Regions from separate parts of the Homo sapiens genome. Here region 1 is linked to region 2. The links come from fine-mapping of genetic effects on gene expression. Tissue or cell type: whole blood. Region 2 holds a variant in brackets; the other region holds the start of a gene. All regions are shown on one strand. Distances are between the middles of the regions.

Region 1 (8,338 bases), 22 kb after region 2:
CTTGTATTTGACTGACTCATCTATCTACATAGTTGTACCCAAACTGCAGTCTTATATCTTCACTTGACCCTTCGGATATTCTCAACCTCAGGTGAAGCATGATATTAATAACAATTTGACCATTTGTCCCCAATTTTGTTTTTTCTTCCCATATGCCTCCAATTTCTGTAATGATACTTCCAACATCCCAGTTGCCTAGATTGAAAATCCTGAGATCATGTGATCATGTATAGGTCTCCCCTTATTCACTTCTACATTAAACAGGTTGAATCTTGTTAATTCTTTTTTTTTTCAACAGGGTCTCGCTCTGTTGCCCAGGCTGGAGTGCAATGGCACGATCATGGCTCACTGCAACCTCCCACCTCAACCTCCAAGTAGCTAGGACTACAGGTGCATGCCACCACGCTTGGCTAATATTTGTGGTGGTTTTTTTTTGTTTGTTTATTTGTTTTGAGACGGAGTTTTGCTCTTGTCACCCATGGTGGAGAGCAGTGGTGTGATCTCGGCTCACTGCAACCTCTGCCTCCCAGGTTCAAGCGATTCTACCGCCTCAGCCTCCCAAGTAGCTGGGATTACAGGCGCCTCCCACCACACCCAGCTAATTTTTGTATTTTTAGTAGAGACGGGGTTTCGCCATGTTGGCCAAGCTGGTCTCGAACTCCTGACCTCAGGTGATCTGCCAGCCTTGGCCTCCCAAAGTGCTGGGATTATAGGCGTGAGCCACCGTGCCCAGACTATTTGTATTTTTTGTAGAGACAGGGTTTTGCCATGTTTGAGACTGGTCTCAAACTCCTGGGCTCAAGTGATCCACCTGCCTTGGCCTCCCAAAGTGCTGGGATTACAGGTGTGAGAACCGTGCCCAACCTAATTCTTTCTTTGAAATAAGGTCTTCATTATCTCATGCCTACACCACTGTTGCCATGGCTCCTCAAATGCCCTGTGGAGTTCTGTCTTTACACACCCTCTACCCCACCATTTCAACATTCAGCCATAAGATTCATTTTCCTAAATAACAGATTTCAGAATCATTTCTCTATTAAAATTTTGATGGTGGCCCAATGCCTAAAATGTAAACTCTAAACTTCTCAATATGACTTTTAAGTTTTACAATAACTCCACTCTTAAGAATCCAACCTAAGGCCCGGCGCGGTGGCTCACGCCTGTAATCCTAGCACTTTGGGAGGCCGAGGCAGGTGGATCACGAGGTCAGGAGATCGAGACCATCCTGGCTAACAAGGCGAAACCCTGTCTCTACTAAAAATACAAAAAAATTAGCTGGGCATGGTGGTGGGCACCTGCAGTCCGAGCTACTCGGGAGGCTGAGGCAGGAGAATGGCATGAACCAGTGAGGCGGAGCTTGCAGTGAGCCGAGATCATGCCACTGCACTCCAACCTGGGCGACAGAGCAAGACTCCATCTCAAAAACAAAAACAACAACAAAAAAGAATCCAACCTAATCTCTTTAATATTCTCTACTGCAAACTCCTCCCTCATGGTCTCATAATAGCTCATGTTTATTACTGGTTTCATAAAAATCTTTTTAAACTTTAAAAAAATGAAATAGTACATAGTAAAGTACATGAAACATAAATGTAGCGAACAAGAAATGATTATAAAGTGTACATCTGTAGAACCACCACCCAAATCAAGAAATAAAACACTGCTTGCACCCGGGAAGACTTTTTCTCATGTGACCCTTCTTGATCACACCCTAATCCCTTAGGAGTAACCACTATCTCGACTTAACAGTAATTGTATACGTTCCTTACAGTTTTACCACCCAGGTACATCCTTGAATAATATATTTTGGTTTGCCTCTTTTTGAATTATACTTTATGTGTTCTTTCATCAACACTATTTGTAAGACTTTTCAGGCTGCTGTGTAATTCTAGTTTGGTTTCACGGCTATAATTCAGGGTTTCTCTACCTCCACACTATTGACATTGGGAGTGATACTTTGTTGTGGTGGCTGTCCCATGTATTGCTGGATGTTTAGCGGCATCCCTTGCATCACCCATTAGCAGTCAGTAGTACTTCCCCTTTTGACACCCAAAAAATGTCTCTGGATATTGCCAAATGTCTCCTAAGAGCCAAAAATCACTCCTGGTAGAGAACTACTGCTCTAATTCATTCACTTCCATTCCTCATTCATTAATGGTGTTCCATTCTAATGAATGTATCAGTTACTTTTCCAATCTACTACAAAAATAATGCTGTTATGAACACTTATTTATAAAAGTCTTCAGAAGCATATACACATGCATTTTTCTAGAATGGGAATCACTGGGTCATGTCTGTATTTTATAAGGCTCACCCGCTTTTTCAAAGTAGTTGTACTACAGGAGAATTCATACTGTTATACATGCTACTCAAAAGCCTAAGTATTACCCATAAGATACTAAGACATAAGGAACTACAGAGACTTTCTCCCTCCTTCCCAACCAATGCACAAATTCCATTTCTGTAATTTTCCCCCATCCTCCAGCTCCTCACCTTCTTTTCTACCCTAATTACAACTGTCCTTCAAGTCTTAGATGATGTCCACCTTTTCTCAGGGGAGAACAGCACTATCCCCTATTGCCCTCCCCTTTCCCTAAACTTGAATAGCATTTCTGAACTGAGCTACTCATTTTTTGTTAGTCACATACTCCCCAAAACTGTAAGCTGTTAGGCAGCACCAAAGGTGCCTTTTAATTTCTTCTCTGAAACAAATAATCCAGCTGGACGTGGTGGCTCATGCCAGTAATCCCAGCACTTTCGGAGGCCAAGGCGGGAGGATCACTTGATCCCAGGAATTTGAGACCAGCCTGGGCAACAGCAGCACCCTGTCTCAAAGAGAGGAGAAATAATCCCTTTCTGGCCTAGCAAAGTAATCTAACTACACATATATAAATGTTCAACAAGGATGCCTTGAATGAATGAGAATAGACAAGCTTTGCAAACTCCTGAACCTGAAAGTAACTGAGATTCAGAAGGCGGTAACAGGCAGGAAACCTAAATTCTAGTCCTGGCTCTCATCCATGCAACTAGAATGTGAACTTGGGCAAGTGATTTCCCCTCTCTGGGCATCGGTTTCTTCATCTGCAAAAGTGTTAGAACAGATGACCACAGAGGTCCCCTCCAGCGCTAGAATTCGGTAAGAAAATTGTACTTCATCAAATCGAGCTTGAGGATGAGACCGGAAGTGGGGGTGGGGGAGTCCCTCGGTTGTCGACGGGGGTTGTGGTGGTGGTGGGGTTCCTCTGTTGCTCCTTGGAGCTCAAGAGAACGGCCACTACAACTGAGGTCAGCCGCCAGGGCGGGTACCAGAGGTGCAGACCGCCACAGGCCATCCCTGGTGTGCCTAAATACCGCTACTGGGTCACCGGGACCGGCAGTGCGGCCGAGTCCGCCCCACGTACGGCCTCTCTGGGAAGGCCAGCCTTGGATATGAGACACCTCGGGGGCCGCCCGCGGGCCAAGGGAGCGCCCAGTCGCTCACCCGGTTGGGATATTCCTTCTCCACACAGTCGCCACACATCGCGACGCAGTCAACAGGGAATGTCCTCCAACGCTTCCGGGAAGACGAAACCTCGCGAGAACTGAGATACGGTTGCCGCATGCGCCCAAGTACTCGACTCCTGGGTATTCCGTCTCGGGAACCGAGCCGAAGTCTCCGCCCCTTAGCAACTGTTGTCAAGGCAGGGCACAGTCTCCTTGGCACCGTGCGTGGGCAAAGGGTGGGGCTTCAGAAACCTTTGGAGACAGACGAAGAAATCTTGTGCGCTAACAGATGTGACGGGAAGGGAAAGGGATCTTGGGCTGAGCGAAGTTCTCACAGACACCTTCCTGAGCTTAGGCTGACAAGAAAGGCAAATCACGACACACAAGAAAGGGAATTATTTCTCGCTACCGCATATACAAATCTGAAATGTTAATGAATACATTTCTGTACCATTTCTTAAGGCAATGAGAGTGAATAAGAGACCAGATCTCAGCAGGTGAATAAACAGTAACCGAAGTGTTTGGGAAGAGACACTCAGAGTGCTGCAGAAAATCTCCTAAAAAAACACTTAAAATATTAGTAATAATTGGTCATTCCAGAGTCCTCTGGAGGACATAGCAACGAGGAACGTATTTCTATCTCTCTCAGGTGTCACAGAAGCACCTCAGTGGCGGGCAAGCACTATGTAAATAGAAAAATGGCCAGGTCATCAGCCATCCCATTACTGGGTATATACCCAAAGGATTATAAATCATGCTGCTATAAAGACACATGCACATGTATGTTTATTGTGGCACTATTCAGAATACCAAAGACTTGGAACCAATGCAAATGTCCATCAATGATAGACTGGATTAAGAAAATGTGGCACATATATACCATGGAATACTATGCAGCCATAAAAAAGGATGAGTTCATGTCCTTTGTAGGGACACGGATGAAGCTGGAAACCGTCATTCTGAGCAAACTATCGCAAGGACAGAAAACCAAACACCGCATGTTCTCACTCATAGGTGGGAATTGAACAATGAGAACACTTGGACACAGGGTGGGGAACACCACACACCGGGGCCTGTCGTGGGGTGGGGGGAGGGGGGAGGGATAGCATTAGGAGATATACTTAATGTAAATGACGAGTTAATGTGTGCAGCACACCAACATGGCATATCTATACATAGGTAACAAATCTGCACGTTGTGCACATGTACCCTAGAACTTAAAGTATATTAAAAATAAATAGATTTCAAAAATTATCTAATTGAATTGACTGCAGATATTTTGATTTCAGATTTGCACATCCATTTATAAATGACCTATTGGTTCACAGATTAAAAAACCAATAAACATATGTGCTTCCAAGAAAAGAAAGAAAGAAAGAAAAATGGCCAGGTCAGTTGTTCCTGCATCATTTCCCAATCCTGTGGGTCTCAAAATGCTTGTGCTTGTTGCCCCGCCTCATCCTTTCTCTCTGTATTGAAAGCATCTTATTTATTCGCAACGACCTAATTAACTTGCAGACGAATCTCCGAAGTTTGTCTCTGTTTCTGAACAATGCGTCTTTATCACACTCCTCTACCCCAATGGGAACATCAACATCCTCCCTCAGCCCTGCTTTATTGCTGTCATGTCAGGGAAGAAAGATTGGGGAGCCTGGGAGACTCTGGGATCCAGATTCCTTAAAGAAGAGATTAATAACCATTTCAAAGCACACCAGTTTAAATGGGTTTGCTAATATGGGAATTATTTTTCCACGGAAGCACTGAAGTTGTAACCTTTAGTATTTCAACTTCTAGTAAGTATCTGCAACTGTTATTAAAAATCATAGGTGTGCTAAGAAACACTGCAAGAACTAGAGCCATCAGAGTTTACCTTATTCTTAGAATAATTATAATACCTCCCATTTGTATGACATTTTCAACCTTTCAAAAGTGTCCTCATTTCAGTTTCTAATTTTATGCTATTACAATCCTATGTGGTTGGTAAGAAAAATATGTCTCCTCTTTTCAGATAAGGAAACCACAGAAGTGAGTGGTTAAAGGTCTTGTCTATGGTAACAAAGCTACTCAGTAGTCAGCCAGGGCTAGGACTCTGTTGCTATCCTTATCTCAATTTCTTTCTAATACAGTAGCACTAGCCACTTATGGCTATAAAGCACTTTAAATATGGCAAGTTGAACTGAGATTGTGCTGTGAGTACATTCTGCACACCAGATTTGGAAGATTTAGTATTAAAATATATAAGAATCTCATTAATAAATTTATATGATTACGTTGAAATAATTTTTGACGTACTGGGTTAAATAAAAATGTATTATTAAATTAATTTCACCTGCTTTTTTAATGTGACTACTAGAAAATTAAAAATTACACATGTAGCTCTCATATTCCTATTGGACAGGGCTAGTCTTTTTTTCTTCTCTCTCTCTCTTTTAAGGCAGTCTCACTGTGTCACCTCGGCTGGAGTGCACTGGCATAGTCTCGGCTCACTGCAACCTCTGCCTCCCAGGTTCAAGCGATTCTCATGCCTCAGCCTCCCAAGTAGCTGGGACTACCGGGGCACACCACCACAACCGGCTAATTTTTTGTAGTTTTAGTAGAGATGAGGTTTCACCATGTTGGCCAGGGTGGTCTCGAACTCCTGGTCTCAAGTGATCCACCTGCCTCGGCCTTCCAAAGTGCTGGGATTACAGGTGTGAGCCACTGCACCTGGCCCAATTCTTTCTCTTCATCCATTTTTAAATGGTTTCTCTGTTTTTAAAGCCTAATACTGACTTTTAATCCTTTGCTACTCCCCAGCTACAATTTAGTCTGAGAGATAAAATGAGCACAAATACTAATAATTACTGGCAGATTGGGGTATAAGAACACAAAATGATGAGACTACACCCAGGGGGAGGATTAGGAAAGAGGAATTTGGGCCTTAAAGCATGTTTAGAATTTCAAAAAGCAGAGTTTTGTTTTGTTTTGTATAGAAATTTCAGGTGAACCATGCCAAGGAGTTTGGATTTTATTCTGCATGTGGTAGGGAGCAACTGAAGGTTTGAGCAGGAGAGTGTTGCCAGAGTTGTGGTTTAAAATTATTTTAGGCTGGGTGTGGTGGCTCACACCTGTAATCCCAGCACTTTTGGGACGCCAAGGCAGGAGGGTAGCTTGAAGCCAGGAGTTCAAGACCAGCTTGGGCAACATAGTGATGACCTCAAAAAATTTTTAAATTAGCCTAGTGTGGTGGTGTGCACCTGCAGTCCTAGCTACTCAGGAGGCTGAGATGGGAAGATCTCTTGAGCCTAGGAGTTTGAGGCTGTAATGAGCTATGATCATGCTGCTTGCACCCCCGCCTGGGCAACAGAGTGAGACTCTGTCCCTAAAAAATAAATAAATAAAAAAGATTATTTTAGCTGCATTTTATTGGGACTTACTGGAACTGGGAAAAAAATGGACATGCCAAAGGCAGACGTTAGCAGGAACCACAAGGGGGAGATGTATAGCTTTCTGCCTCATCACTGAGAATATACACAACAAAAATAAATTAATTAAAAATTACACTAAAGTCATAGATCTTAAAGAGTACACCCATTAGCATGAATTGATTTCATATTCTAAGGCATGAAAGACAATCTACATATTTATGAAATTTTTTTACCTTCCCAGAGTTATATCATAACTTGTTATTAAAATGAGCAAGATAAAAAAAAAAAAAGGTCGGCCGGGTATGGTGGCTCATGCTTGTAATCCCAGCACTTTGGGAGGCTGAGGCGGGTGGATCATGATGTCAGGAGATCGAGACCCTCCTGGCTAACATGGTGAAACCCTGTCTCCACTAAAAATACAAAAATTAGCTGGGCATGGTGGCGCATGCCTGTAATCCCAGCTACTCAGGAGGCTGAGGCAGGAGCAACGCTTGAACCTGGGAGTCAGAGGTTGCAGTGAGCCGAGATCGTGCCATTGCACTCCAGCCTGGGCGACAGAGCTAGACTCCATCTCAAAAAAAAAAAAAAAAAGTTGTCATATTTATGGTCACAAAAGCTCAAGAGCTCAGGGCTATCTATCCAATGAAGTCCTCCATTTAAATCTAGCCACATTCAGAGAAGAGAGGCAGGAAATGAGACTTGGGGGAAGAGGTAGCCAGGACCAGAAATTAAAGTGTGACTGTGGTAATGGGAATATAAAAGTATCTGAGGTTGACAGATGGGAGAAAGGAAAATAGAGGCTACAAAGCAGAAGATTAGCACCTGAATGAAATGAACAAGTAGTGATGTAACATAAGAAAAACAATAAACAGAAAAATATTTTCTCTTATAGGTAACTATATAAAATAAAATTTGCAAAATCAATTTTATCTTCTAATAGAATTTTCTCTGGGGAAATACCCTGCCCCTATGGGTCTCTAATAAATATGTGATGTCCATGAGATATATCAAACAAACCATGTTGCAGTTTACGTATGAGATCACCTCTTGTAAAAGGAATTGATTAAAGAAAATCTAAATGTTAAAATGGCCCTAATTGCTGGCTCAGTTACATGTGCTAAACTACATCCCTGTGGTAAGATGAAAATTTTCCCTAAAGAGTGCAGTTTGACTCTCCTTTTAACACCTTCTTTCTATTTTTTCTTTTGTCTTATGCTGTCTTAAGCCAAGAGTCTGAAGTGATGACACAATGCTGATCATATCTATTATTTTCATCTTTTGTTGAAAGGAGCAAATAAGTGCCCCAGCCTTTATGGTAGTATCCTCAGACCCATTTCACAGATGGAGTAGAGGAAGCTCATCTGCTTGGTGAAGGTATAGGTCATTCTTTCCATTGTTTCAGGGAAAGTGTGAAATAAGAGTCTGTGGTTGTCATCACCTGATGTCAC
Region 2 (8,338 bases):
GCGCCGCTCAGATGTGGCCTGGAACTTTGAGAAGTTCCTCATAGGGCCGGAGGGAGAGCCCTTCCGACGCTACAGCCGCACCTTCCCAACCATCAACATTGAGCCTGACATCAAGCGCCTCCTTAAAGTTGCCATATAGATGTGAACTGCTCAACACACAGATCTCCTACTCCATCCAGTCCTGAGGAGCCTTAGGATGCAGCATGCCTTCAGGAGACACTGCTGGACCTCAGCATTCCCTTGATATCAGTCCCCTTCACTGCAGAGCCTTGCCTTTCCCCTCTGCCTGTTTCCTTTTCCTCTCCCAACCCTCTGGTTGGTGATTCAACTTGGGCTCCAAGACTTGGGTAAGCTCTGGGCCTTCACAGAATGATGGCACCTTCCTAAACCCTCATGGGTGGTGTCTGAGAGGCGTGAAGGGCCTGGAGCCACTCTGCTAGAAGAGACCAATAAAGGGCAGGTGTGGAAACGGCCAGCCTGTGTGTGTGTTCTTTGACAGAGGGCGGAGGGAAGCTACAAACTGCAGGTGGGATAGAGGAGCTGCTAGCACACAAAGCTTTGGGAGGGGAGGATCTGACGGATCAAGGGATGCCCTAATTACTGACAGGAAAGCAAGCGCTGGCCAAGGTCTGCAGTGGCAGGTGCAGTTACGGGAAATGTGAATTATATTATTCCTTTACAGCTCTTCTTCAGAACTGGGGAAAAAGAGAAAGTGATAATGGGAGGTAGAGGAGGAAAAGACAATGAGCCCTTTGGTTGGGGATATTGGGAGGCTGTTAGGAGGATTACAGTCAGGAAGCATCAATAGCACTGTGGGTACTGGGCCAACTAGATCTGACTTGTGCCTTGGGAAATTCCTGGGCAGTCAGCTTAGTTAATGTTTACCAATAGCAAGGGCATAGAGGGTGTAGTTACTGAGAACACAAACAGCACTTTATCTTTTTCCTGATCATCAAACATCTCGGGTGTTTGATCCTTTGCTAGACTGATTCTCCCTCCTTTTTAAAGTTCATGGCCCGGGTGTGGTGGCTCACACCTATAATCCCAGCACTTTGAGAGGCCGAGACAGGCGGATCACTTGAGGTCAGGAGTTCGAGACCAGCCTGGCCAACATGATGAAACTCTGTCTGTACTAAAAATACAAAAAATTAGCCAGGTGTGGTGGCGCACGCCTGTAATCCCAGCTACTCAGGAGGCTGAGGTGAGAGACTCATTTGAACCCGGGAGGTGGAGGCTGCAGTGAGCCAAGATGGCGGCGCCACTACACTCCAGCCTGGGCGACAGAGTGAGACTCCGTCTCAAAATAAATAAATAAAGTTCACATTACACCCTCATTCTTCTCAAAATCACATATTCACAAATTCAGGCTCCAGACAAATAGAGGCAGGAATGACTGGACTCATTTCTTCCTCTGTAAGAAGGAAGGGGTTGGGGATGGGAGAGAGCCTCCCTTCAGAGTCAGGCTGTTTATAATCTGCCATTTGCAACATCATTATTCCTCACTGTGAGGACAGTTTTGCTCAGAGGCCTTGCAAGGATGGTGTCCCCAATTCCTCATCCAGTGCAGACATAATCAAAACATATCACCACCGCCAAGGTCAGGTTCTATCATGTTCTGGAAAAGATACCTGCTGAGAGGCCACTGCCTGTCACCTTGCCCCACAGACCTCATCCTGGAAACTTCTCATTTCATCTTCCCTTCTTTGACCACTAGATGGAATATTTTCACTTCTATTCACTGAAACCCTGAAGGGACAGTTTTCCAAACTGGACACACTGCTTGAGAAGCCCAATGCTGAAGGGAAAATGTTTTTCCTTTAATTGTTCTGCTTACCCTAACCATTTTCTAAGCACTTGCATCATATGAGAGTGAATGTGGAATAGATGTTTAGGATCCCCACTTTCTGACCTTCAACTAAACCTGTCAACAACAGTGCTTTATTTCAAAAGGGTAACCTGAGTATTACAGTGGGAATCCCCTGACACCTTTCTGCAGGGCCTTCTGCTAACTTAAGGCTACCCTTACCTTCACTCTTGAAACCTCAAGCCTTTCAGATTCCTGCTCTTAAAGTCAACAGCTGGGGTATGAATTATTATGGGGCAGGACCATGTACTGATTTTAGAGCAGTAACTGCAGACAAATTGCTTTCCTGACAAAATAGAGAATTCTTCTTGGATGCTAGTCATCACCTTGACAGTACCATAGCCTGTTGTTACATCCAGTAACAGAGCCAGCTATCTCGGGTGTTGGAAACATGCCACAGGCAACTTAGAGCCTGAGACACCAGTACAATGTGTTCAGTCTTTCCCTTGAGGCCCAAGTTCAAAGAATTATTTAGGGATTCCCAAAGGAATGGGAATTACAGTATAAGTTATTCTGCAGAAAGTCAAGAGAAGGCCATAAAGCTAGAATGAAGGCTCTTCACTTGGGAGGGGAAACACTATTTGCTTCAGACAGAACCTGATCTATTCAGCTCAGGAGGAAACAGGGAAGGCAAGACTGGAAGATTCTATTTTAAAAGGATGTTTAGGTTTACCAAATATTTAGTTGTGCTGTTGTTAAAATGAAGAGAAATTAGAAAGTGTTTCCTTTCCTTTATTCTTCATCTTGTTTGTCCCCCTTATCATCCTCAGAAGTATTAGCTTGTGATCATAAACAGACAAGGCAAAGCTTTAAAATATCACCCACTTTTCTAGATAAACAAAAATCTTTTAATCAGATTTCCCTAGGGGCACCCAGAAGGAGGGGGAAGTCTCCTTAACAACTCTCCCAGAAGTGCTGAGATAATGCTATTCAACTCAGAGGAGGGACAGAGAGAATCACTAACCTGAGGGCTCTTACAAAAACAAAAAACAAAACAAAAAAACCAGAGCTTGGAACAAGTGATTTTAGGAGGCCAGGGTAAAGACACTGAAATCGATAATTATCTTCATGACTATGTTCCCATAGCTATCTCTCCTTAGTTTATGAGACACTGAGGCCCAGTATGGTGGCTCAAGCCTATAATCCCAACACTTTGGGAAGTTGAGGCGGGAAGATGGCCTGAGCCCAGGAGCTCACTATGTAGCCTGGGCTACACAGTGAGACCTCGTCTCTACAAAAAATTAAAAAAAAAAAAAAAAAATCGGCTGAGCATGGTGATGTACACCTGTAATGGTTTCAGCTACTCAGGCAGCTAGGGTGGGAGAATTGCTTGCGCCTGGGAGTTCGAGGCTGCAGTGAGCTATGATTGCACCACTGCACTCCAGCCTGGATGAGACCTTGTCTCAAAAACACTGAGTCAAACTCTAGAACTTTATTATAATCACCATCACAACCATCATCCAAACTACCATTCATTTAATATTTACTATGGGCACAGACTGGGCTAGGTACTTTATATACACTAGGTTATTTAACCCTCATAGAGATCCCATGAAAAATTGTTATTTCTATTAAAAGAAAAGGTAATTGGGCAAGACACTTGCCAAGGACACACAGCTTAGGAAGCAGCAAAGCTGAAAGTTAAAGCCAGGTCAGTCTGACTCCAAAGCCTCTACTCTTAACCATAACACAACAGTGCTTTCTTCTAGCTCAGATTTTTCTTCATAAAGACCACTGACAGCTGCCTGCACACAGCATTAGATTTAAAAATCATTAGATTTAAAAATTCTGTGGAGGCATGATGGTTTCTAGTTTTCCACTGAAGACACTGAGGTACAGACAGGATAAGTGACTTGCTCAGTGTCCCATCATTAGCAGGTGACAAAGCTAATTCTAGACCCAGATCTTTTAATTCCTTTTCTATCCAACTATACTGTATCTTACAACAGTCTTGTACTACAGTAAAAAAAAAACATACATTTTTAAATTGAGCGCCTCAAATAACTAGCCCTGCTCACAACATGAAAGAATGAAACCGAAAGGACTTTTGATACACTGAAATAAAGGACAGTGAACATAAACCTCTTCATGGTAACTTACAAATAACAAGCCATATCTGGTTGTGCCCAAGCTATCTGATGTCAATTAAATTAGTACTGGGAGAACCTAAAACCATGTGAGAAAGAGCTAGATCAAACAAAACAACAAATAGTGGCTGAGCTTTTAACTTCAGGAGCCTAACTAGCCAGACCTGTACATCACAGAATGATTAGAGAAAAAGGAGGTGCCAAGATAAGCCCACGTTTCCAATTATCCCCA[T/C]GTTTCCAATTATCCCCACAGGTGATTTCTCTTCCTTCTTATATCTCAGGAAGGAAAGTAAAAAGAAGAGCCATGTTTTGCCTAATTCCTTTTTTTTTATTTTATTATTATTATACTTTAAGTTTTAGGGTACATGTGCACGATGTGCAGGTTAGTTACATACGTATACATGTGCCATGCTGGTGTGCTGCACCCACTAACTCGTCATTTAGCATCAGGTATATCTCCTAATGCTATCCCTCACCCCTCCCCTCACCCCACAACAGTCCCTAGAGTGTGATGTTCCCCTTCCTGTCTCCATGTGTTCTCATTGTTCAATTCCTATCTATGAGTGAGAACATGTGGTGTTTGGTTTTTTGTCCTTGCGATAGTTTACTGAGAATGAAGATTTCCAATTTCATCCATGTCCCTAATTCCTAATTTGAACAGAAAAATAAGGATTCTGTGAAACTGGGTTCAAGTGGTCGTTATTAGATCCACATAAGAATCTAGAAAATGATAAAATATCACAAAACACAGCACAATGTGGGTTCACCAATAATGAAATATAGAGAGAGGATCTTATGTTTTAAATTTTTGTAACATATAGTCCAAAACAAATAGATAATTATACATTCTGCAATAGATGAGGACATTGGCAGGGCATATAAAATTAGACTCTTGGGCTTCAAATGACTAAGTTGGAAGCATTAGCAAACTCAAGGAAGGGACAATTCAGAGGCTATAATGGGCTTAATGCTGCTATTTAAAGTAATGAAGCATTTTCTCTGCTTTCTGGATTCATTTCACCAAACGATTTCCTCAGCAGGTCAGATATAGATTTGCAGCAAAATGAAAAACATTTTCCAGGAATAAAACAACTGATCCCTGCAACAGCTGACTTAACTTTTCTGAATAATAAATCTTCATCTGACATGCCCAGATGCCTCAGAGTACTGTCACTGATATTCTTAACCTCTTCCTAACCTTGCCAGATCCTTGTATTTCATATTTGCCAAACATAATTACTGAGAGGGGGTAACTGCACTAGCTGTGTGATCTTAAACAAGTTATTTAACTTCTTTTTTTGTTGTTGTTTTGTTTTGTTTTTGTTTTTGAGATGGAGTCTTGCTCTGTCTCCCAGGCTGGAGTGCAGTGGCATGACCTTGGCTCATCACAACCTCCCTGTCGCGGGTTCAAGCGATTCTCCTGTTCAGCCTCCCATGTTGCTGGGACTGCAGGTGCATACCACCACCCCTGGCTAATTTTTGTTTTTGTATTTTTAGTAAAGACGAGGTTGCACCATGTTGGCCCGGCTGGTCTCAAACTCCTGACCTCAGGTGATCCGCCTGCTTTGGCCTCCCAAAGTGCTGGGATTACAGGGGTGAGCCACCGCACCCGGCAAGTTATTTAACTTCTTTGTGCCTGAGTTTTTTTGGCTCTAAAAGTGCTACACTGAAATAAAGAATAGTGAATATAAACCTTTTCATGATAACTTACAAATAACAAGCCATATCTGGTTATGGCTAAACTATCAATAGCACCTACCTTATGAATTTGTTAATGAGGATTAAATAAGTGCTTAAAAAGCTCTTAGCATGTAGTAAGTACTTAATAAAGCTCAGATATTATCATCATTACTGTTATTCAACAAAGCTTTTCCCTAGTATCTACAATGAACACTTTGCTCATTTCTTGTTCTTATAAGACCTTAGTTCAGAATTTCCAAATCTCCTAGATATGAAGAAACACTTTTGTTTCTAATGCCTGACCCTTTAAATTTAGGTCTCAGAATGAGCACTAATTGAAGCCACCTCATTGTTTCTAGTACTTTACATGCTTTCTAAAGTATCTTACATTCACTAATTCATTTAAATCTCCTAACAATACTGTGATGAATGTATTATATCAATTTTTGTTAGTCCAATTTGATAGAAACAGGACAATAAAGTCCAGAGTAATGCTTTGCTTAATGACTATACTGCTACTAAATGGCAGAGAGGCCTAAATGCCAGTTTATAACCTCCTGGCCAGTGCTCATGAAACTATGCAAAGTAAGATATTCTAAAATCCCTTTAAAGCCAATGAAACCATTTTCTCATTTATATTAACTGAAGTCCACACTGTATTCAGATTTCCCTAGTTTCTACCAAATGACCTTTTTTTCTTTTCGTGGTATATAATTCCATGTAGGATACCACATTACATCTAGCAGTCATGTCTTCTCAGGCTCCTCTTGGCTGTGACCATGTCTCAGATTTTCCTTGTTTTTTATGGCCTTGATAGTTTTGAGAAGTACTGGTTAGGTATTTTAAAGAATGCTTCTCAATTGGAATTTGTGTGATGTTTTTCTCCTGATCAGACTTGGGTTCTGAGTTCTGGGGAGGAGGACCACAGAGGTAAAGTGCCATTCTTATCACATTCTGTATGATGTGATGCTATCAAGGATACATGCTATCAAAAGGGCTTATCATGGATGATGTTAACCTCAATCACCTGGCTGAGCTGGTGTCTGTCAGATTTCTCCACTGTAAAGTTACTCTTTTCCCCCCTTTCCATATTATACTCTGCAAGGAAGTCACTATGCAGAGCCCACTAAGTGGGGAGTATCTACATAAATTATTTGAAATTCTTCTGCACAAGAGATTTGTTCCCATTCAATCATTTATATTAGTTTGGGCTTGTAAATATTTATTATATAGTTTGGGTTATAACCCAATACTACTTTATTTTGTTACTCAAATTGCTCCAGCTGTGGCCTTTCAGAGATCCTTCAGTTCGATCATGCTGACATACTCCCAATCACTATGATTTTTTTTTTTTAATTTCAGTACTTCATTTTTCTGTGGCACAAGATACTCTAGGCTCATCTTGTACAGTTCATATCCCAGTTCTAGAATCAGTTCATTTTCTAAGGAGTCCTGGTTCCTTTTATTGGAAACCAAAATCTGGGCACCAGGTGTGCTCCCATTCTAGTTGTTTTCTGACCACATAACTGCTAACAAAGATGCTTCACTCTGGCTACACTGATGTGAACTTTGAACTTTAGCAGAAGAGCTCAGCTCTAGAGAACAATGAGCTCCTACATTACCTTTTTTCCTCAAAGAATAAGTAAGTCTAAGCAGAAAAAAAATATGCAAAGAATTTTCAGTATGAATGAAATAAGACAAACCATCAGGCTTGCTGTATTGTAAACCAACACAATATAGTTATAACAGATCTGTAGAAGGATCCTTAGAATAAGAGAGTCATTTGTCGGGGGTCATCAGGGAGAATACTGATAGTATCTTCGGCTTTGCCGCATAACAGACACAGCATGGTATACTCCTAGAACAAGATAAAGTGCATAATTACCTAGAGGAACAGGGAAAAAGATGCTTTATAACTTACTCTAGTTAAGATGTTCTCTACAAATTGTCATGAATATTCTTTCTGTACATTGGATCAATTTCTTCAACATGTATCAGCAATGTCTTAGGCTTATTCTGTATATTCCAGAGCCTGTTGTTTATATAAATTGATACATAAATGTCATCTTGGAAATACATGGCTATTTCTCAGAAAGCACATATATTTAGCTTAGTGCTATTTAAAGTAATGAAGCAATTTGAGTGTGGGTCCCTATGGACAAATTCCTATTCTTACAGCTGTTCCTTTCTAGCATATTTAACACTAATACACAACAGAAACAATTTTTTGAAAGGAGAAAATTCCCAAACTGAAAAAGCTATTTTTATCTACCCTAGGAAAATAAACAATTATGTTAAATTCACTAGTATGTCCTGCCTCATTTTCAGATGGCTAGTTGTCTGGGAATTTGATCCATTTAAGAAGTTTGTTTCCCAGGCTTAATAAATGCCCAGATTGGTAATAGAGGAGATTTTGTTTTAGGCAAAAACCCTTAGGGCAAGGTCCTTTTTCTTTTTTTTTTTAGACACGGTATCACTGTGTTGCCCAGATTGGAGTGCAGTGGTGCAATGATGGTTCACTGCAGCCTTGACCTCCTGTGCTCAAGTGATCATCCCACCTCAGACCCCCAAGTAATTGAGATTACAAGCACTCGGCATCACGCCTGGCTAATTTTTAAATTTTTTGTAGAGATGGGGTCTCACTATGTTGCCCAGGGTGGCCTCAAACTCCTATGCTCAAGTGATCCTCCCACCTTGGCCTCCCAAA

The links. PIP is the estimated chance that this variant, and not a neighbour inherited with it, causes the effect.
Region 1: CHURC1 starts here. The variant in region 2 is fine-mapped to the expression of CHURC1 in whole blood (INTERVAL, PIP above 0.99).

The regions. Positions count from the first base shown.
Region 1 is chr14:64,909,678-64,918,015 of GRCh38, reverse strand. It overlaps CHURC1 (churchill domain containing 1), which reads right to left and starts at 3,561. Exons shown (of 4, transcript NM_001386928.1): 1 at 3,482-3,561. The coding sequence starts at 3,520. It overlaps CHURC1-FNTB (CHURC1-FNTB readthrough), which reads right to left and starts at 3,655. Exons shown (of 14, transcript NM_001202559.1): 1 at 3,482-3,655. The coding sequence starts at 3,601. It also overlaps the pseudogene RPPH1-2P. RefSeq lists enhancers at 3,292-3,561, 3,712-3,761.
Region 2 is chr14:64,931,289-64,939,626 of GRCh38, reverse strand. The region is part of intron 3 of CHURC1-FNTB (CHURC1-FNTB readthrough); the gene reads right to left. CHURC1 (churchill domain containing 1) reads right to left here. Exons shown (of 4, transcript NM_001386928.1): 4 at 4,259-7,489. The coding sequence ends at 7,397. It overlaps GPX2 (glutathione peroxidase 2), which reads left to right. Exons shown (of 2, transcript NM_002083.4): 2 at 1-469. The coding sequence ends at 139. Among named protein-coding and RNA genes, the nearest start is that of GPX2, 7.3 kb to the left of the region's middle. The variant T/C (reference allele first, on the strand shown) is at 4,184.